Linked DNA regions of Homo sapiens: region 1 is linked to region 2. A link means that fine-mapping ties the variant in region 2 to the expression of a gene that starts in the linked region. Tissue or cell type: blood mononuclear cells. Region 2 holds a variant in brackets; the other region holds the start of a gene. All regions are shown on one strand. Distances are between the middles of the regions.

Region 1 (10,581 bases), 31 kb before region 2:
GCTCCCCCAGCTCCATCTCTCACCTAGCCTAGGAAGGAGCTGCGCTTGGACCCGGCAGCCCCGACCTCGCAACCACGTACCTGCCCACTGCTCACTGACATGGCTGGGGGTTGAGCAAATGTCTTGAGAGCAAAAGCTCCTGGATTGAAGGAAGTGGGGAGGCCTGGCACCTCCTGGGTCTCTCTTCACACCCCAATTTCCATCTTCTCCAGCATTTACTCCACCTGGAAGGCAGAGGCTTTACCCTCAGCACTCACTACAGCGTCTTCCTTCGCTCTGAGGGCAGGGATTTTATACCCTTCCCACCTCCCAACCTAAACTATCCCCAGGTGGCTCAGCCTGGCCTTTGTACAAATGAGTCCCTGCACCTGGATCACTGTGCTCACCTGTCTTCACCTAATTCCAACTTACTTTTCCACTCTCTGGAAAGCATTCTCTGACCCTTCCCACCCCACTATGGGCTCCTGGGCTTGCCCCACCTCAGGTTTCATCATCTTATATTGCAATTCCCTGGCTGCTGGTCTGTTCTTCCCCTCCCCTCCCCATCCTCTAAGACTATGGGGCTCCTGCAGCATCTCTAGTGCCTGGCCCAGGCATGGTGCTCAGGAAGAACACAATCACCCTGTTGTCCTCTGTTCCTCTGCCGGGATGGGAGAGTCTGGTAGTCACTTTATCTTTTACAGCAGCAGGTCTCAGACTAGAGTGAGCATCAGAATCCACTTGGTGGTGCAGGCAGGGAGGGACTTATTAAAATACAGATTCTGGGCCCTACCCCCAGAGTTTCTGATTCAGTAGGTCTGGGGTAGGGCCTGAGAACTGGTATTTCTAACAAGTTCCCAAGTGCTGCTGCTGGTCCAGGGACCACACTTTAAGAATCACTGTTGGGGCTGGGTGCTGTGGCTCACGCCTGTAATCCCAGCACTTTGGGAAGCCAAGGTGGGTGGATCACTTGAGGTCAGGAGTTCGAGACCAGCTTGGCCAACACGGTGAAACTCCCTCTCTACTCAAAATACGAAAATTAGCCGGGCATGGTGGCACGAACCTGTAAACCTGTAATCCCAGCTACTCAGGAGGCTGAGGCAGGAGAATCACTTGAACCTGGGAGGCAGAGGTTGCAGTGAGCCAAGATTGCGTCACTGCACTCCAGCCTGGGTGAAAGAGCGAGACTCCATCTCAAAAAAAAAAAAAAAAAAAAAGAATCACTGTTAGCCTGGCATGGTGGCTCACGCCTGTAATCCCAGCACCTTTGGGAGGCCAAGGTGGGTGGATCACTTGAGGTCAGGAGTTTGAGATCAGCCTGCCCAACATGGTGAAACCCCGTTTCTACTAAAAATACAAAAATTAGCTAGGCGTGGTGGTGGGCGCCTGTAATCCCAGCTACTTGGGAGGCTGAGGCAGGAGAATTGCTTGAACCTGGGAGGCAGAGGTTGCAGTGAGCCAAGATCACACAAATCCCCATCTCAGGGTGTCAGTTTCTTCACTGGTAAAATGGGATAACTACTGTCCCCATTATCCTGGGTTTTGTGAAAATCCAATGAGATAATGCAAATGAAGAACTCATGCACCCAGTAGGTGCTCAATAAATGTTAGCGATCCCTCCTGGGAGTAGGCAGGAGACATGGCAGGCAGGGAAAGCATGAACAGGAGCAGAGATGGGAAAGGTCCCAAGCAGGTCAGCTGGGCTGGCAGAAGAGCCAAGGCCCAGCACAGCAGCCAGGGAGTGTCCTGTAGAAGTAACTGGGAGCCACGCACAGTTCTGGAGCTGGGCAGTGACAGGTGGAAGCTGAATGTGGCAACATGGGGCAGAGGCCATTGCCGGCAGCAAGTCCCACGTGCTGGAGACTTGGCTGTTTGGCTAGACATAGGGTTGCCAGATTTAGCAAAGAAGATAAAGTATGTCCAGTTAAATTTGAATCTCAGATGAATAATGAATACTTTCTTTTAGTATAAGTATGTCCCAAATATTGCTTGGGTATACTTATATTAAAAAGCAGTTGCTGTGCATCTGAAATTCAGATTTACATGAGTGTCCTTTATTTTTATTTGCTGAATCTGGCAATCCCAACTAGACACCAGTTGCCTGCCCCCCAGCCCTTAGTCCTGCATGCAGTGGGAGACCCAGCCCCAGGGTCCACTGCCTCCCTTCCCACCTTCAACAAAGCCACCAGGAGTGATTGATGAGCTGCTCCCAGAAGCCAGTATTGCTGCTCTGAGTGATCACAACTACAGGCCTGGGTAAGGGGGCCCTCTCACCTCATGCCAGGTTCACCCAGCAAGAAAGTAGAGGGGCACAGTCACTAACCACTGGGTCTGTAAATTAACAAAGCACATAGGGTGAATGGAATGACTCATCCCAGGACTTTGAGAGGCAGAGACAAGAGGATTGCTTGAGCCCAGGAGTTCGGGACCAGCCTGGGTGACATAGTGAGACACCCATCCCTACAAAAAATTTTTAAAAATTAGCTAGATGTGGCTGGGCACCGTGGCTCACGCCTGTAATACCAGCACTTTGGGAGGCCCAGGCGGGTGGATCATGAGGTCAAGAGTTCAAGACCAGCCTGGCTAAGATGGCAAAACTCTATCTCTCCTAAAAATACAAAAATTAGCCAGGCATGGTGGCAGGCACCTGTAATCCCAGCTACTCATGAGGCTGAAGCAAATAATCGCTTGAACCTGGGAGGCGGAGGTTGCAATAAGCCGAGATTGTGCCACTACACTCCAGCCTGGGCAACAGAGCGAGACTCTGTCTCTAAAAAAAAAAAAAAAAAAAAAAAAAAGCCAGGTGTGATCATGCATGCCTGTGGTCCCAGCTCCTCGAGAGGCTGAAGTAGGAGAATTGCTTGAGCCCAGGAGGTCAAGGGTGCAGTGAGCTGTGATTGTGCCACTGCACTCCATCCTGGGTGACAGAGCCAGACCCTGTCTAAAACAAAACAAAAAAACAATAAAACACATAAGCTACCAAATTCTGTAAAGAAGGAAGTACCACCTGCATTCTTGGATTAATGAAGAAACAAACAGCTGCCAGTGATATAGGCTCATCCGATGAGTATACCCAAGCAGAGGAAAAAATGGCCTCCACCTTCAACCCCAGAAATGGGCAAACACAAGTGTCCATGCTGCTTGCACCCTCAGAGAAAGCCCTGGAGATGGTGATGTCAACCACAAGCTAGAGTGGGACAGTCTCTGCCTTATTCAGTTCCATTCAGTGTTAGAACAAGTCATACTAGCAGAGGCTGTTCTATCTGCCTTTCTTCTCCTACCCTCATCACCAAATCCCAGATGATTGAGAGTTCCAGAAACGAGCCTGTCAGAAATGCAATTTTTCTTTTTCTTTTTTTTTTTTTTTGAGACAATGTCTTGCTCTGTCACCCAGGGTGGAGTACAGAGGCGCCATCTCAGCTCACTGCAACCTCCACCTCCTCGGTTCAAGTGATTCTCCTGCCTCAGCCTCCTGAGTAGCTGAGACTACAGCTGTGCACCACCATGCCTGGCTAATTTTTTTTTTTTTTGTATTTTTAATAGAGACGGGGGACCGAGCGCAGTGGCTAACGCCTGTAATCCCAACACTTTGGGAGGCTGAGGTGGGTGGATCACGAGGTCAGGAGATCGAGACCATCCTGGCTAACACAGTGAAACCCTGTCTCTACTAAAAATACAAAAAATTAGCTGGGCATGGGGATGGGCCCCTGTAGTCCCAGCTACTCAGGAGGCTGAGGCAGGAGAATGGCGTGAACCCGGAAAGTGGAGCTTGCAGTGAGCAGAGATGGTGCCACTGCACTCCAGCCTGAGTGACAGAGCGAGACTTCATCTCAAAACAAAAACAAAAACAAAAAAACAGAGATGGGGTTTCACCGTGTTGGCCAGGCTGGTCTCCAACTCCTGACCTCAGACGATCCGCCCACCTCTGCCTCCCAAAGTGCTGGGATTGCAGGCGTAAGCCACCTCACCCCAGCCGCAAATGCAATTTCTGCAACAACCTTTATATCAACTTTTTTTCCTCTAACAATGAACAATGAAAACAATTTGTGCTCCATCTTTAAAAATGTGTGACACAAAAATTTTTTAAATAAAAATAAATATGTGATAAACATTCCTGAATGCCTAGTGTGTGCCCTGGCGCTGTGCTCTGCATTTAATTTGGATCAGCAGTTCTCAGCCTTGTTTGTACATTACAACCAACTGGAGAGGTTTTTAAACTCCCAGTATCCGGGGCATCAGTATTCGTCTAGGGCACAGTGATTCTAACACACAGTCAAGGTTGAGAACCACTTATTTAATTCATCCTGTAAATCCTCACAATAGAATCCTGCAAGGTAGCTTTTATCACCACCTTTGCCGATGAAATTGAGGCTCAAAGAGGTAAATTGATTTCGGCATCTGTAGCCCCAACCTGTGACCTCTCCTTCCTTCCTTCTCGGGCTCCCTTCAGGGATTTCCTGATGTTACAGAAAATGGTATGTATGACGCTGCCCTCCTGGCCACCTTGACATAGCTCTGCTCCCAACAGGGCTCTTCTGAGATAGCAGCCAGACACTACCTGGGATCAGGACTGATACTAAATGACTTCTGCCAAAATGAGGACAACTGAGGCCAGTCACTTCCAAACAGGTTCTGTCACCCTGAGTCAGAATAATGGCAGCTACCTCTCCTCCTCACCGCCCAGTCGTTTCTAAGCCTGGCTCGTCGCCGTTGCTGCTCCGCCAAGCCTTTCCTCGGTGCCCTCTCTCTTTTAGAACAAATTACTTCATCTCCAGGCCCTTCTCAGGGCAGCTTCTTTGCAGGGGCCATAGGGCGTCGGAAAGGTCTTTGGTCCAGGAAAGCCGCGAGCCACAGATCCAAGAGGAAAAAGCCGTTCCCGGCCCGGGCCTTGCCCAAGGCACGAGAGTAAATGCACCTTCCGCGTGCCTCGGCGCACCTGGGCTCACCTGTCCCCTCCCGCAGTGCCTGCAGACAGGGAGGGAGCGCGGCTGGGCCAGAAGGCTGATCACCGCCTGCCCCCTGCTGGCCAGTGTCAGTATTGAGCCCGCTGCCGCTCGACCAGAACGTCCCAGGGATGGAATGAAGGTGCGGGCATTTATGGAGCGCCTGCTGTTTGTCAGGCGAGGTACTGATAAGCGCTGGAGTGTAAGGATGTACGTGACCTGCTCTCAGAGTTCAAATTTAAATGAAGAGATATACATTAATCAAGTAGTCATTCAAGCAAATATGAAATTACAACTGTGGGCTATGCGAACAGATGACGCGAGGGGCCTGTCCAGTCTGGGAGATACGGGTGGGTTCAGGAAAAGCTGCCCCCAGGAGGGGACGTTTGAGCGCCAGGAGCCGCGCAAAGTCATTTCATGTCATCTCTAAAATCCTGCAAGGCGGCTTTCCCCCTTGACAAAACAGGAAATGGGATCAAATTGAGGAAGGAATTCACCCAAGATCACACAGCAAGCTGGAAGCAAATCTGGGAGGAGCTAGGTCCGCCCCGTTCCGAAATCCACACTTTTCTGGAGGTGGGGCAGGCGGTGGCACAGGGACTTGGGGCGGGGTCTGGTGGGCGGGGCATGAAGTCTGGCCCCGCCCCCGCCTCCGAGGCCAAAGGGCGCCCTGGGCGGGGATCGGAGCAGGGGCGGGGTCTTTCCAGGGAGTGGAGCCTGGGCAGATTGGGGCCTGTGGAGGCCGCACTAGGATCGTAGAAGGAGTGGAGCCGTGCTCTCACCCTGTCTTAGAGGACCCGGAAGCGCCAAGTGACTGAGGGCCGAAGACACTCACCTGTGGAGCCTGTGCACGTAGGTAGAGGCGGCGGCTCTGAGTCCAGGAGCTCCAGTGGGCAGCTCCCCAGGTAGGGCCCAACTCGGGGGGAGAAGAGATGACCCTCTCCCCTCCCGCCCTGCCCATCTGTCCTGCCATCCTACATTCCTTCCTTCCTGTCCGCGGGCCTGGGTCCACCCCTAGCTGTAAGATGGGGACGCAGGGGTGGAGGGACTGGCCTCATTTTGTCCCTTTTTCCCTGGCCCAGCGGCTGCAGGCCCCCTGGACACCCAGAACGTAGAGTCTGGAGAGGAGACGTCGAAACCTCCCAGGGGAGGCTGGCCCAGCTTTACCCCAGCCTGACTGTGTGACCTTGAGGAGGACAGCCACTTTCTCTGGTACCCAGTGTCCTCAGTTGCAAAACAGTGACTGGCCCTTGCCCTGCTTGCCCTGAGACTGGGCAGATCAGATGCTGTAGCTGCTGGGGGCTGGGGTGGCGCTTTCTCTCTACTGGGGCACTAGGAGTGCTTACTCTCCTGCTCCCTCTGGTCCTCGGTGGAGAGCCACACCCTTCATCCACCCAAACCTGGGAGCCCCGAGGGCTGAGAGCCTAGTCCTAGGGCAGCTTGCTCTGGCTTCCCTGTGCTAGAGTTGTAGTCTAGCCTGGAAGGCCTGTGAACATCCCCAAGGTGGGGTGTGAGGCCTACGTGGAGTGCACATGCTCGTTTTGCAAATAGTGGTGCCACCATTGTGCATGGCCTTGAGTGCCAAGTTAAGAAGTCCAAACTCCGCTGGGCGCGGTGGCTCACGCCTGTAATCCCAGCACTTTGGAGACTGAGGCGGGTGGATCATGAGGTCAGGAGATCGAGACCATCCTAACACGGTGAAACCCCGTCTCCACTAAAAATACAAAAAATTAGCCGGGTGTGGTGGCACACGCCTGTAGTCCCAGCTACTCGGGAGGCTGAGGCAGGAGAATTGCTTGAACCCAGCAGGCGGAGCTTGCAGTGAGCCAAAATCATGCCACCGCACTCCAGTCTGGGTGACAGGGCAAGACTCCATCTCAAAAAAATAAATAAATAAAAGAAGTCCAAACTCTCAACTGCTGGCAGGGGCAGTTCATCAGAGTATGACCTGCAGTGCCCACAGGACCAGCCTGCATGAGTGGGGCTGTCATGATGCTGCTGCTGATAGGTGTACATACAGGTTTTTATTGCATTCCAGGGCTTTACACAAAGTCATTAGTTACTCACACGTGCCTGATGTTATTCCCATTTTGGAGGCTGAGACTGAGGGTCAGAGAGATGAAGTCACTTGCCCATGGTCACAGCTAGCAAATGGCGGAGTGGGGATCAGCACCCAGATAATCTGGTGCCTTTTCTCCTAATGTCCTGTGGCCACCCGTGATCTGGGCATCTGGTTATAAAGTCTTAACCTAGGACAGCTGGAGAAAGGAGGGGCTGGATGAGCAGGAAATTGGGGGAGAAGATTCAGAGGGCTAGGGAGGGAGAGAGGGGTAGTGACTAGTCCTAAGGGGTATTCGGCTTCCTGGGAAGGTGTGAGGAGTGAAGTGGCTGATTTTAGACATGTTAGTTTGTGGGTGGAGGGTGATAGAGGGGAGCCAAGCAGAGCTCTCCTCTGTCTGGAAAAGAACAAGGAGGTAGAGCTGGGTCCTGGGAAAAGGGGGTGCCTAAGGGATAGGTGAAGACAGAGGCGGGCTCACAGAAGGCCCCCAAAATGCTGAGCAGGCAGATGTGGGGGGGCTCACTGGAAGCCCCCAAAATGCTGAGCAGGCAGATGTGGGGGGCTCACAGAAGGCCCCCAAAATGCCGAGCAGGCAGATGTGGGGGACATCCATTGGTGAAGTGGGGGGAACAGAGAGAGGAGAGAATTCTGGACTCCCGTGACATTAGATCTGAGGGAGATGGGTCTAAAAAACTGAGGCCTTGGTTCACAGAAGGGGAAACTGAGGCCAGCCAGTTACTTGCCTGAGAATACTCCAGGGCTGGATCCGAGTAGGACCCCGGGTGCCATCTCTGCTATTCGGCCCTTTCTACTAGATCGTGGTTCTCAGCTGGGGGCAATTTTGTCCCCCAGGAGACATTTAAAAATGTCTGAAGACAATTTGGCTGTCACAACCTGGAGCTGCGGGGGATGAAGTGCTACTGGCATCTAATGGGCAGAGACCAGGGATGCTGCTGAATATCCTACAGTGCACCCACCCACCCCCCAGCAAAGAATTATCTGGCCCCAAAGGACAGTAATGCTGAAGCTGAGAAACTGCACTAGGGCTTAATAGGGCAGAAAGCTCAGGCTTGGGCCTCCAGCTGGATGGACCTTTGCCCCAACCCCGGCTCTGCCCCTCCCCATGCTTGCTCCTTAATTCCTGGAAGCCTCTGGAGTCCTCTCTGCTTTTCCTGGGCACAGTGGTTTAGAGGTCTGCCCACCAAGTGTCTGTCACCACTCTGTCTCCCCAGACCTGTATTCAGAGTTTGGCATTAGGTAGGGAGAAACCAAAGTGGAAATGTCCCATCTAGCACATGGCAGGTGCCTTGCAGATAAACTTGATTTGAGTGACATCTTAGGGGTCCAGGGAGTTTCATTTCATCCCATTTTCACTTTGGCAATTTGAATTGTGTCTTATGTTTGTGACGCTCTGACATAGACTGAAAGAATCCACTGCTTCATCCGATGTCCTAGGATGGGCAGGATGTGGCATTATCTGAGAAATGCTGTGGAGGTGGGGGTCTTGTCGTTTAGGCTCTTCCAAGAGTAGACTGTGGACTGGGAACACAAAAGCAGTTCCTTTCAAACACATGAAAGGCTGCAGGAATCACCTCGGGATCCTGTTAAAATGCAGATGCTAGGCCAGGTGCAATGGCTCACGCCTGTAGTCCCGGCACTTTGGTAGGCCAAGGTGGGAGGATCACTTGAGTCCAGGAGTTTGAGACCAACGTGGGCAACATAGTGAGACCCTGTCTCTACAAAAGAAATTTAAAAGTTAGCCAGTTATGGTGGTACATGCCTGTAGTCCCAGCTACTCAGGAGGCTGAGGCAGGAGGATCACTAGAGCCTGGGAGGTTGAGGCCGCAGTGAGTCATTTTGGTGCCACTGCACACCAGCCTGGGTAACAGAGTGAGATCCTGTCTCAAAAAAAAAAAAGAAAAGAAAAGAAAAGAAAAATATGCAGATGCTGATTCAGTAGGGCTGAGTTGGGCCTAAGTTTCTGTTTCTAACAAGCTCCCAGGTGATGCTGATGCTGATGTTTGTTGCTGGTGCATACCACATTTTGAGTGCAGGGCATTGCAGGGCTGTGCAGAAGTGGCCATGGGCCATGCAACCAACTCTTGGGTGGTTTGGAAGCATGGAGTGGAAGGAGACCATGCTCTAGAGTCAGGAGAGCTGGATATGAGTCTTTACTCCCTCTCTCCCCTCCCTATACCCCTTCTATGGCCTGTCAGCTTAGAAGAGCTTGAATAGTTTCCTCACCTGTAAAGTCACTTAACCTTGGGTAAGTCACTTAGCTTCTTTGCTAAGTGGTCTTGCATGGCAGGCTGTCCTCCAGGGGTTCTGACCCAGGGTCTGAGAGAAGAAAGTGCTCTGTAGAGATAGGACAGTCTGGGTCTTGGCAGGCAGAGGGGCAGCAGGCCACTGGCCTGGCCAGGAGGGCAGGGGTGATCACCTGAAGCTGCTGGGGCAGGCACTGTGCCAGCTTGGAGGAGGCTCTCATCATAGCCCTGTTTTTTCTCTGAGGCCGCCTCAGCCTCCTGCTTTGGGCTTACCCAGGCCTGTCTGGTGTGGGAAAGCTGGAGAGACCGGTCTGGCTGGGGGAGGGAGCAGCTTCAGTGGGCTGAGGCCAGCCCAAGGCCTGATTGTGGGTCTGAGCGCCTAGCCAGCTCAGCCCTGGTCTGAGGAGCTGGGGTTAGGGTTGAAATTGGGGTCTGAGAACTATAGCCTGGACACCGCTGGGGTCAGGCTGTGCATGGACAGGCTTCCCACCAGGGAAACTGGGAAGGAATTTGTAGTTTGGGGCCTTAAGCCCCCAGCTATAGGGGATGCTCTGCCTTGAGCATCTGACCCCAGGAATGGGGCTGAACAGAGCCTTGAGTACCTGGGGTGCTCCCACCCTTGGTCCCCCATAAGTCAGCTACAATCGCCCAGCAAGACACCTTCCAACTCACAGGACCAGCAGATAGCAAGACAGCTGAGCCCATTTCTCAGATGGAAAAGTGGAGGCTCCTTCGTTCCCACTTCTTGGGAAAAGAAGAGTACTCATTAGCACAGTCACCCATTATCCAGCAGGGCCCTGGGCCTGCTATCTAATGAGGCTGCCCCCTCTTCCCACCCCCTCCGTTTTCACAGTTGGACCATCCCAGTGGAACCACACAAACCTGGGTTCAGATCTCAGGTTCCCTCCTTCATAGTTATGAGGCTCTGGGCAGGTCACTCCACCTCTCTGAGCCTCTGCTGGCTCATCTGTAAACAGGAATAATGACACCCGCTCAGCCAGCCCCACAGGGTTGTTGTGAAGATGAAATGAGCCGTACCCACGGAACACTGTGGTCATTATCATTAGTCATGGCATTTAGAGGCACGAGGCAACTGGGTATTGTTTTACCTTGTGCCCTATTTTACAGATGTGGACATCGGCACTTGGGGAAGGAGGCGGCTGCCCAAGGGTCCCTTAGCAGGGCAGTGGGCAAGCTGGGGTTAGACCCACATCTACAGGTGTACCTCCCATCGCACAGCTGCTGCCATCTGTGCAAAGGCACTCCAAGGCGTGACACAAATGTAAACTTGGGGGTCTGTGTGGTCAGGCTGCAGGAGCTTCTTGTGGAGGAGCTG
Region 2 (10,581 bases):
CGCGCGGGCCCATCCCTCCCTCTTCCCGCCCGCCGCCCGCCCGCGCTTACTTGTGCGGCCCCGGGCGCAGCCGCGGGCGCCATCCCGTCGTGTAGAGACTGTAGCGGGAGGCACCGGGCGGCGCAGGCCGCGCCAGGAGCGGGGTGCCCCTGGCCTGCGCCCCCGAGAGCAGCGCCGCGACGGCGCACAGCCAGACGAGCAGGCGGCGGCGGCCCATAGCGGCCCCCGCGCCTCTGCCCGGCCCCGCGCGGTGCCCCCCGCCGGGTGTCCGCCTGCAGCGCCGCGCCGCCCCCGCCGCTGGTCGGCCCGGGTCCCGCCCCGAGGGTCCCGGGGTCCCCTTCGGCCCCCGAGCTCGCTGGCCCGGCCGCCTGGCGCTTCGCGGCGGCTGCGTCCCGCGGAGTGGCCGGCGCTGCTAGCGGCTGGGGCCGCGGAGGGGAGGCGGGAGGCGGGCTCTTTGCGGATTAGCATAAACTTGGGGCCGCGCCGCTCGCCGCCGCCAGCCCCTCGCCCCAGCTCCGAGCGGACGGCCGAGGAGCCGCCTGCGAACAGGAGGTTCCAAAGGGAGCAGCCCCAGGTGGCAGGGGCGCAGGCCGCCGCGCCCTGGGAGGCCCCCCGAGCACACCAGCCACTCTGTCGCCTGCGGGCACGGGGCGAGACGCAGAGAAGCGGACCCCTGAGGCCAGCCTGGGCGTGGACTTTCCAGGAGTCGTCCACCCTCAGGATACGCTTGTCTTCAGAGTCCGTGTGAACCCGGGAACTGCTCTCCAGGGCTCTGGAGCCGAGATGGCCGTGACTGGGGGCACAGCAGCACCACCTCCCCCGCCACCTCTTTGGAATAGACCCCAGATCATCCCCGTTTGCTCGCTCTGCCTCCTGGCCCCATCATTGCCCGGGAACCTTAGTTTGATAACTCCGCTGACCTCTCCCCAGGCATCCCACCTCCCCCTTACCCCGCAACCTCTGCCACGTAGCCTGGTGGCCCGGTTGCACCTCTGGTTCTCTGGAGGCGCCTGTGTTGCCTCTCTGTCTTAGGTATGGGTTGCACCGAGCCCGAAAGGCCTATCACCGCCCCAGCCCAGCCAAAAGTGCTGTGCTTTTCGTGCAACTGAAGCTCTAAGCCGGCTGGTCAGAGAAAATCCTCAGGTCTTTCTCACAAGGCACTGCCGCGGTGAAGCCAGGCGTCGTCCACATTTTGCTTGTGAAGTTGACTCTTGGAACCCAAGAGTTGGGTTTTATCGTCGTCCTCATTCAGTATCACCTTGCTAACTCTCTAACCTGCACAGAGTCCTTCTGATTCTGTCATCAGAGCGGTACTTTCCTGGCCTTGTCTCATCCACACCGGTGGCTACAGCCGTCTGTGTCTTTGCCCCAGGAGCTGATAGGTGTACAGAACTCTGGGGCTTGCTTGGAGAGACCTCCCTCCAAATTGACCTTGAGATATGAATTAATGCCTTTTGGATAGGGTGATGGTTATCAAGGATACTGGAAGGGGCAGCTCCGAAACCCACATCTATTTCCTGCCCTTAGCTTTAGTGGCTTTTGGGTTCTGTGGGGCGGACATCTGACCCCAGCTAGGCCCATCCTGCTTTCCCCCAGGCTTTGGAATCAGAACACAGAAGCTGAAGGAATCCAGCTTCCAGGTGTAGGTTGTGTGAGTTTCTCAGGGCTGTGGTAACAGCCACAGACTCAGTGGCTTAACACACAGAAATGTATTCTTGCACATTTCTGGAGGCTAACTCCAAAATCCATGGGCCAGCAGGGCAATGCCCCCTCCAGTGGCTCTGGGGAGAAGCCTTCCTTGCCTCTTCCAGCCACTGGTGGTTCCTGGCAATCTCTGGCGTTCTTTGGTCAAGGATTCTTTGTAGCAGCATCACTCCAGCCTCTACTTTCCCTCCGCATATCCCTCTTCAGGTGACCTTTTTTTCTCTGTGACTGTGATCTGTGTCCTTTCCTCTTCTTTCTGTTTTTGTTTTTTGAGCCAGAGTCTCGCTCTGTCGCCCAGGCTGGAGTGCAGTGGCGCGATCTCGGCTCACTGCAAGCTCTGCCTCCCGGGTTCACGCCATTCTCCTGCCTCAGCCTCCCGAGTGGCTGGGACTACAGGCGCCCGCCATAATGCCCAGCTAATTTTTTTGTATTTTTTTTTTTTTTTTAGTAGAGACGTGGTTTCACCGTGTTAGCCAGGATGGTCTCGATCTCCTGATCTCGTGATCCGTCCGCCTCGGCCTCCCAAAGTGCTAGGATTACAGGCGTGAGCCACCGCGCCCTGCCTTTCTGGTTGTGTTTTTAAATTTGAGACAGGGCTGGGCGCGATGGCTCATGCCTGTAATCCCAGCACTTTGGGAGGCCGAGGTGGGGGGATCACCTGAGGTCAGGAGTTTGAGACCAGCCTGGCCAATATGGTGAAACCCCATCTCTACTAAAAATAAAAAAATTAGCCGGGCGTGGTGGCGGGCGCCTGTAATCCCAGCTACCTGGGAGGCTGAGGCAAGAGAATCACTTGAACCCTGGAGGTGGAGGTTGCAATGAGCCGAGATCATGCCATTGCACTCCAGCCTGGGTGACAAGAGCGAAACTCCATCTCCATAAATAAATAAATAAATAGAGACAAGGTCTAGCTCCATCACCCAGGCTGGAATGCAGCGTCGACCTCCTGAGCTCAAGTGATCCTCCTGCCCCCACCTCCTCTGTAGCTGGGACCACAGTTGTGCACCACCATGCACAGCTCATTTTTAAAATTTCTGTAGAGATGGGCTCTCACTTTGTTGCCCAAGCTGGTCACAAACTCCTGAGCTCAAGTGATGCTCTCACCTCAGTCTCCCAAATTGCTAGGATTCTAGGCGTGAGCCACTGCACCCAGCCCAGCCTCCTCTTCTTATAAGGACACCAGTCATTGGATGTACAGCCCAACATAACCTCATCTCAAATGATTACGTCTACAAAGACCCTATTTCCAAATAAGGTCACATTCTGAGGTTCCAAATGTTCATGAATTTTGGGAGGGGCACAATTCAATCCACTACAGGGGCACTTGGCTGGTAATGATAGGAGAGACCACGAGAGCTCTGGGGGAATCATGGGAAAGGGAGAAAGAGTGTGGTCAGGGGAGAGAGGGGCAGAGTCAGGGGCTATGTGGTGAGTAACCATCTGGGGACAAGCTGTGACTTCCCTATCTGCTTCCAGTAGTCCACCATTGGAGCTAGCTTGAATGGGTTTCTGATCCCAGCAACCAAATGTGCTCTACAGAGAGAAACTTCTCTAGTCATGAACTGTAGAAATGATCCCTGAAAGTATAGTCTTACAGCAACCACATGGTCCCTAAGACAGCCTTTCACTCTCCCTATAAAAGCACCGAATGTGCTATTATATGCTCCAACCTCTAAGAGAGATGTTATGAACCATTTTGCTGAGGGCAAGATACACCATATCCCCAACAAGCTCTTGATCTTGTAACCACTGACTTTGCGCTTTTTAGGAAGTGAGAAACATCTGAGCCAGCTCCTCATCCTAGGCTGGGTGCTGACTGCCTGGCAGCATTGCCCAGCCTGGCTCTGGGAGGAACTCCCCCACCCCAGAGGCTGTGATCTTTTTCCAAGTGGTCCCACCCCTTCCTCTCACTCCCTTCCCCAGCCCCAGATGTGGGGCCCAAAACTCACAAGGAAGAGGCTGGACCCTGTTTGAGCTTGGAAATATCCACGTCATAGGGGCTAAAAGGATAGCTGGACCCCACTTCCCCCTTTCCCAGGTGGCTGACATCAAACACCATGCTCCCTCTTTCACTGCAACAGTTTTGGGATCCAGGATCTGGGCCCCATTCTAGTGGGGGTGGAGGACCTCAGTACAGGGAGATGCTCAGGGTCTTGGCTGGATCAGGCCAGAGCGGGGGTCCCCCCATAGACGATGAGGCCACTTTGCATCTGCCAGACAGGAAACCTAGGGAGGCCAGAAGCAGAGGAGGAAAGGAGGCAGTCATGTTCCTCTGACTCAGACTGGAGTTTCTACACCTGGATGGAAACGGGCCATACACGGGAGTGGGAGTGCAGTTTCAGTTCACAGGGACATGCACAACCACACCCAACCCATCCCCCATACCACTATCATGCATGTGCATGAGTTTTTCCTTTCGTACAGATGGGGTCTCACTATGCTGCCTAGGCTAGTCTCAGACTCCTGGCCTCAAGTGATCCTCCTGCTTTGGCCTCCCAAAGTATTGGGACTGCAGGGGTGAGCCCTATGCATCCTGCCTTTCTTTTCTGTTCTTTTCTTTTTTTTCTTTTCTTTTTTTTTTTTTACGGAGTCTCACTCTGTTGCCCAGGCTGGAGTGCAGTGGCGTGATCTCGGCTCACTGCAACCTCTGCCTCCCAGGTTCAAGCAATTCTCCTGACTCAGCCTCCCAAGCAGCTGGGATTACAGGCACATGCCACCACGCCTGGCTAATTTTTTGTATTTCTTTTTTTTTTTTTTAGTAGAGACAGGGTTTCGCCATGTTAGCCAGGCTGGTCTCAAATGATCCGCCCACCTTGGCCTCCTAAAGTGCTGGGATTACAGGCATGAGCCACCACATCTGGCCTTTCCTTTTCTTATTGAGGGCCCAGCACATAAGAGTATTAAAAACCACACAAAGTTGTATGGGATGCAGTTCCCCTAAAAGAGACAGAAATAGAAAGCACTGAAGCTGCTGGCTTTCTGGTACAAGCTCTTCCTGCTGCAGATGGACCCCTCCTGCACAGGGACCACAGCCCTTGAAGGCACCAGCCCTAAGGTGCAGCCCTTTGTCCCTGACCATCTCCCTTACCCTCTTTTTTTTTCTTTTTTGAGAGTGCACAGCTAGGCCTCCCTGCCCACAGAGCCACATTTGGAAGTTCTGTGCAGCAAGGCTCTTTGCCCAGGCTCACTTTTTTCTCCACATCATCACCATCAGCATTTTGATTATATCTGCACCATCATAAAAGGTTATACCAAATGCACATGAGTTTCTGAGGCAGGGGTTTGCACTGACCCCATCCAGCTAGGCAGAAGCAGGGCTCGTCCAGGATCCTAGGGGGGATAGATGTGCAGCCTGGAGGCAAGGTCCTGGAAGAGTCCAGAAATCGTGGAAACTGGGCTCTGTAAAGCCTGGACGGACTTCCATTGAGTGAGAGTAGCTTAGGAACAGCTTAGAAATTGTGACTGCTGATGGACTGTCAACATGGACATATGCAAACCAGATGCAACATTACGCAAATTATATACAAAATACATGCACAGGTCTCCCAACTATTGCAAATGCCAGATATGGTCCTTGAGGACCCTAAGTTTAGCTGAGACCTGTTGTGGGGCAGAGAGATCACCCTGGACTTGCCAGTTTCTTTTTTTTTTTTTGAGACTGAGTCTCACTCTGTTGCCCAGGCTGGAGTGCAGTGGCGTGATCTTGGCTCACTGCAACCTCCGACTCCCAGGTTCAAGTCATTCTCGTGCCTCAGCCTCTGGAGTAGCTGGCACTACAAGCGTGAGCCACCACGCCCAGCTAATTTTTGTATTTTCAGTAGAGATGGGGTTTCACCATGTTGGCCAGGCCGGTCTTGAACTCTTGACCTCAAGTGATCCACCTGCCTTGGCCTCCCAAAGTGCTGGGATTACAGGCATGAGCCACTGCACCTAGCTAGGACTTGCCAGTTTTCTTATGGTGGGCAGGAAGGGCTTTGCTCCAAGGTGGTTCACACACTGTGGGGAAGAAATCAGGCAAGGAGTCAATTAGACTCAGGTTTGAATCCCAGCTCTTCCACTCACAAGTTGCATGACCTCCCTTGAGTCACTTCACCCCTCTGAGCCTCTGCTTTCCTATACGAAAATGATTATTATGAGGAATAGATGAGAACTTTGGCCAAGGCTCCCATGTGCACAGTCGTGCACATAACAGA[C/G]GCCCAGTGAGTGTGGCAGGGCTCTGCACAGAGTCCTTTCTTGGGGGTTGGATATCTGGGCCTCCTTTCTAGTCACTGCAGTAGCAGCTGTGCCCCCTCAGGCTGTGGGCAGGACCTTCTTGCAAAGCAGCACATGCAGCTCTGGGTTTGGAAAATGTCAGTGCTTGGATGGACCAGGAATCCATGTACCTCTCACTCGTCAAGAAATCTGGCAGAGGTCACACTCAACAGGGGTGCTGTGGGTACCCCAGCCAGACTCCCTTTCCCTGGTCAGTGTACCCATGAATCCCCTGGCTGCAGGTGTGATTACTGGGAATGCTCCCAGCTGCCCCTTCTGTGAATTGCCCTTGGCTGAGGAGTGACTGGCTGATAGGGTGAAATGGTTTGGCTGTGTCCCCACCCAAATCTCATCTTGAATTGTAACTCTCACAATTCCCATGTGTCGTGGGAGGAACCTGGTGGGAGGTGATTGGATTATGGGGGCAGGTCTTTCCTGCACTGTTCTCATGATAGTGATTCAGTCTCACAAGATCTGATGGTTTTAAAAAGGGGAGTTTCCCTGCACAAGCGCTCTTTTCTTGTCTGCCGCCATGTGAGATGTGCCTTTCACCTTCCACCATGATTGTGAGGCCTCCCCAGCCACGTAGCTGTAAGTCCAATAAACCTCTTTCTTTTGTAAACTGCCCAGTCTAGAATATGTCTTTATCAGCAGTGTGAAAATGGACTAATATACAGGGGGACAAAAAAGGCAGCCTCCTCGCCTCATGGTGGACAGCCCAGTGTTAGTTTATGTTGCAGAGCCCCCTTGGTCAGGCCCCTCTAGACTCTACCTGGGATCCATTCTTGCTCTATTTCCATCCTCTCCTGTTTTCCTACCTCCCTTATGTATCTCTCCCAGGAGCCCCCTTGATAAATGACTTATAACTAGATCCCTGTCTCAGGATCTGCTTTTGTGGAACCCAACCCAAGAGAGGGGGACAGACCTGCATGCAGAGGGGGACATGAACTTGTATAGTCAGGAACCATAGGGTAGCGTGGGCTCACAGAGGAAGAAGTGCCTGGGTGCCTGAGCTTGGGGGAAGGGATCAGAGGGTGTTTCACAAAACAGGCAACACTAGAGTTCACCGCACGGGGAGAAAGCACCGTGGGTGGTGGGTGCGGCATGTGCATGGCCTGGAGGCAGGAGAGAGCCTGGTATGTATGGGGAACCCCGCAGAGCTCTGGGTAGCCCAGGCTCCAAGAGAGGTTGGCAGGGGCCAGACAAGAGGGGCCTTGAATACCCCAGTGAAAAGTCTGGACTTTACAGCTGGAAACGATGCATGCAGAACTGTCGGGAAAAACATCCTGTGGCTGCAGCTGTGTGGAGCAGACACACGAGGTGGGGTGCCGGTGGGGTGGCCCTGGCAGCTGTCAGCCACCAGGCTAACAGGGACCGAGGGATGAGGAACAGGGCTAGATTCTAGAGGCTTTCAGGACAAAGGACTAAAAGGCCTTGGTGGCTAATCTGGGGCTCTGGGTGTGGGAAGGAGTCTAGAAGGTACCACAAAGAGAGGAGACAAAACATCAGGGCTGAGGCAGGGTTGAATGAGCTGTACAGGGCAGGGGTCTGCATTCCCTGTGCCCACCACAGCTAGAGCCAGGCTGAGCCTCCAGTTGGAAGGTCCGGACACTGACCAGAGTATGTGGCACAGCTGGCCTGACCCCAGTAAGGACCTGGGGCTGCCCCTTGCTGGAGGGGCTGGCCTCCAGGCCTGATTAGGACAGGGATGGGGAGAGGCTGGGGGCGGGGGAGTAGAGTGCAGAGCTGCTCAGGCATTGATGCGGGGGTGTGGTTGCAAGGCCCTGGGAAGGGCTCACCATCAGCTCTCCTCTAACTCTTCTATTCATGGACACCAGAGTAAAAACTACACAAGATTACCCACTGGTGATGGGGGAGGCAGGCTTGCAATGCAGGGTGTGTGCAGAGAGGCCAAAACAAGCAGGGGAGGGGGCTACCCTCCATGGGGGGAAGGAAGGGGAGGGTGTTGCCATGGAAGACTCATGCTTGGACAGGCAGAACCTGACCTTCACCCAGACACTGTCCTTATCTCAGACCTGCTCTGCCTTAATTCCTTAATTTGCTGGGACATTTGCTGGGCACCCGGTGCTGGAAGCACAGACAGGTCGGCTCCAGGCTCTGTGCTCAAGGCATCCAGAGGGGCAGAGGTGGATGAGAGTTAGAGAAGCCCCAGGAGGGGCCAGAAAGGGGCCTGGGGAGGTGAGAGGGGAAAGAGCATCCATGGTGGGAGACACATGCTCCAATCAGAGGGAGGGGACTTAGGAGGGGACATGGCAGGAGGGGAGAGGGCTGCGTGCAGGCTGAGGACTTGAGGAGGCTGGGGGTTGCTGCATTTTGATGCTTGGCCTTCAGCCCCTTGAATCCACTCCAGACCACTTCCTAGTGCCACTGCCATTGTCTATTTCTGAGTCGAGCTCCAATCCAGACTGGCAGTCCTGGATGCGGGGGGCCATCTCTTGCCCAAGTTTGCCAGATGAATGGACCGTGGGTGTTAGATGGGTCATTCTGTAGCCATGAGGAGATGGCACTAGGCAGGCTGGCACTGGCATCCAGGCAAGAGATGCTGGAGATGAGAGAGGGTGGGCATTTTGGAGAGAGAGTCACCAGCCTTCAATGAGCTGGCTGGAGAAGGCTCAGGGCTAAGGTCAGGGTCATGGGCCCCACCCTGGTGGGGCCCCAGGATTCTGTCTTATGCTTAGGGCTAGATGATATATCTGGCGTCTATTCAAAAGGGGTCCCTGCCAGGGCCTGACCTTCTGACACCCCTTTCCCCTCCAGAGCAGCCCAGCCTTCTCCTTTTGCCCGGGTCCCACCCACCTGCCCTTGCCATGTGACCTTTGAGGCCTTCCCCAGGTTGAGTCTTTGCAGCCAGGGCTCCCACATTCCTGGCTATGCTGGTGTTGGCCAGCAGCCCTAGTTCCTTTGGGAAAGAGCGGACAGGAGGCTCCCATGGCGGGGACTGTATCCTTTCCTTCCCTCCCTTGCCCCAGGGGCTGCACTGGGATTAGGGTATCTTCCTCCCTGGCCATATCACCACAGTCCCACCTCCAGTCACAGTCTCCCCTCCCCTCCCTCTCCCTCCCTCTCTCCATCCTCCTCCTGTTTCTCTGGCCTCATGAAGAGCCCCATCATCCCCCAGCTGCCCACCATGGAGTGGGTGGTTGGTAGTGCCAGTTAGGTGGCAGTGCAGGTGCCTGAGCCAGGGTGAAGGCTGGAACCATGTTGGTGAGGATGGAAGGGACCAGCTGAAAGTATCCAGGCGATGAGGCCTTTTGACTTTTGAGGGGCTCCAGGATGACTACAGGTTTCTGGCATGGGGGGTCTCTTTTGCTGAGACAAGGACAGAGGGGTACACCAGTCTGGAGGGAAGCCACACTGAATTGGAGGTGCCTTCAGGTACCCCGGGGGAGAAGGCTGTCTGGAGGGCAGCAGGATATGCACACTGTTAAGGTGTCCCATTTGTTGGCTGCCCCTTTGAAGCTGGGGGCAGGGCAGGGGGCCAGAGCATACTGTAGTGCAAGGTCAGAGGCCCACCCTACCCCACTGCTGTCCAGGGCTCCTGTTAGAGCCACAGGGAAGTCGCTGACTGGCTGTCCTTGTGACCCCTCCTCCCAGATAGCTGATGAAGGCACTTGGTCAGAAGGCACGGCTGGCTGAGGCCACAGCCCCTCTGCTGCCCCGAGGCCATCCTTCCCTGTTCCACGGGCCTGGCACTTCCCAGGCGGCTGCCGCACCACTGACCACCCTTCCAGCTTTGGGTCCCTCGTGGGTTTTTCGTCCTTTCCCCCATCCCTAGCCTCTCTTCTCACCATCTCCTTCCCAGGGACCCTCCCTTTCTCCTCCCGCAAACCTCATTCTTCTCCTTTTCCCATAATCAGGAAGAGCTTTGATTGCCCATTATACCTGGAGCCCAAATTGTCAGCAGGAGAGAAACGGGTTTCCCCCACCTTGAGGGCCTGACCTTAGACACTCAAGTGTGCCAGCCAGGGCAGCATTCCTGGGAAGAGAGGGGAGACGTCTAGGTTCCAACCAGACGAGAGTCACCCTCCCCAGAAGAATGGGCCAAATGACTCCTAATACAAGGGAAAATAGAGACAACCCCCCAAAAAAAGTTTTACAACAAAACCAGCTGAATGTTCAAAACCTGCCCCATCTCATTTCTTTGAAATTGGAGAGAATTTAACTCATCAGCAAAAATAAAGGCAATGGGAATGAAGAGATCTCCAAAGGAGTTTGTAGGCCGGGCACAGTGGCTCACGCCTGTAATCCCAGCACTATGGGAGGCCGAGGCAGTTGAATCATTTGAGGTCAGGAGTTTGAGACCAGCCTGGCCAACATGGTGAAAGCCTATCTCTACTAAAAATACAAAAATTAGCCAGGGATGGTGGTGCACACCTGTAATCCCAGCTACTCAGGAGGCTGAGGCAGGAGAATCGCTTGAACCTGGGAGGCGGAGGTTGCGGTGAGCTGAGATCTTTGCATTGCACCCTAGCCTGGGCAACAGAGTGAGACTCTGTCTCAAAAAACAAACAAACAAGCAAAGGAGTTTGTGTGGTGTAAGAAGAAAACTGGGGACATTTAAGGCGAAAACTAAGGAAAATGATTCAGTGAAGGAGATCAGAAAGA

Evidence for each region.
Region 1: it holds the start of LPIN3, and the variant in region 2 is fine-mapped to the expression of LPIN3 in blood mononuclear cells (TOPMed, PIP above 0.99).

What each region holds. Positions count from the first base shown.
Region 1 is chr20:41,335,176-41,345,756 of GRCh38, forward strand. It overlaps LPIN3 (lipin 3), which reads left to right and starts at 5,646. Exons shown (of 20, transcript NM_022896.3): 1 at 5,646-5,827. RefSeq lists an enhancer at 5,258-5,307 and a silencer at 5,468-5,627.
Region 2 is chr20:41,366,418-41,376,998 of GRCh38, forward strand. It overlaps EMILIN3 (elastin microfibril interfacer 3), which reads right to left and starts at 401. Exons shown (of 4, transcript NM_052846.2): 1 at 51-401. The coding sequence starts at 217. It also overlaps the pseudogene LOC124904985. The variant C/G (reference allele first, on the strand shown) is at 5,898.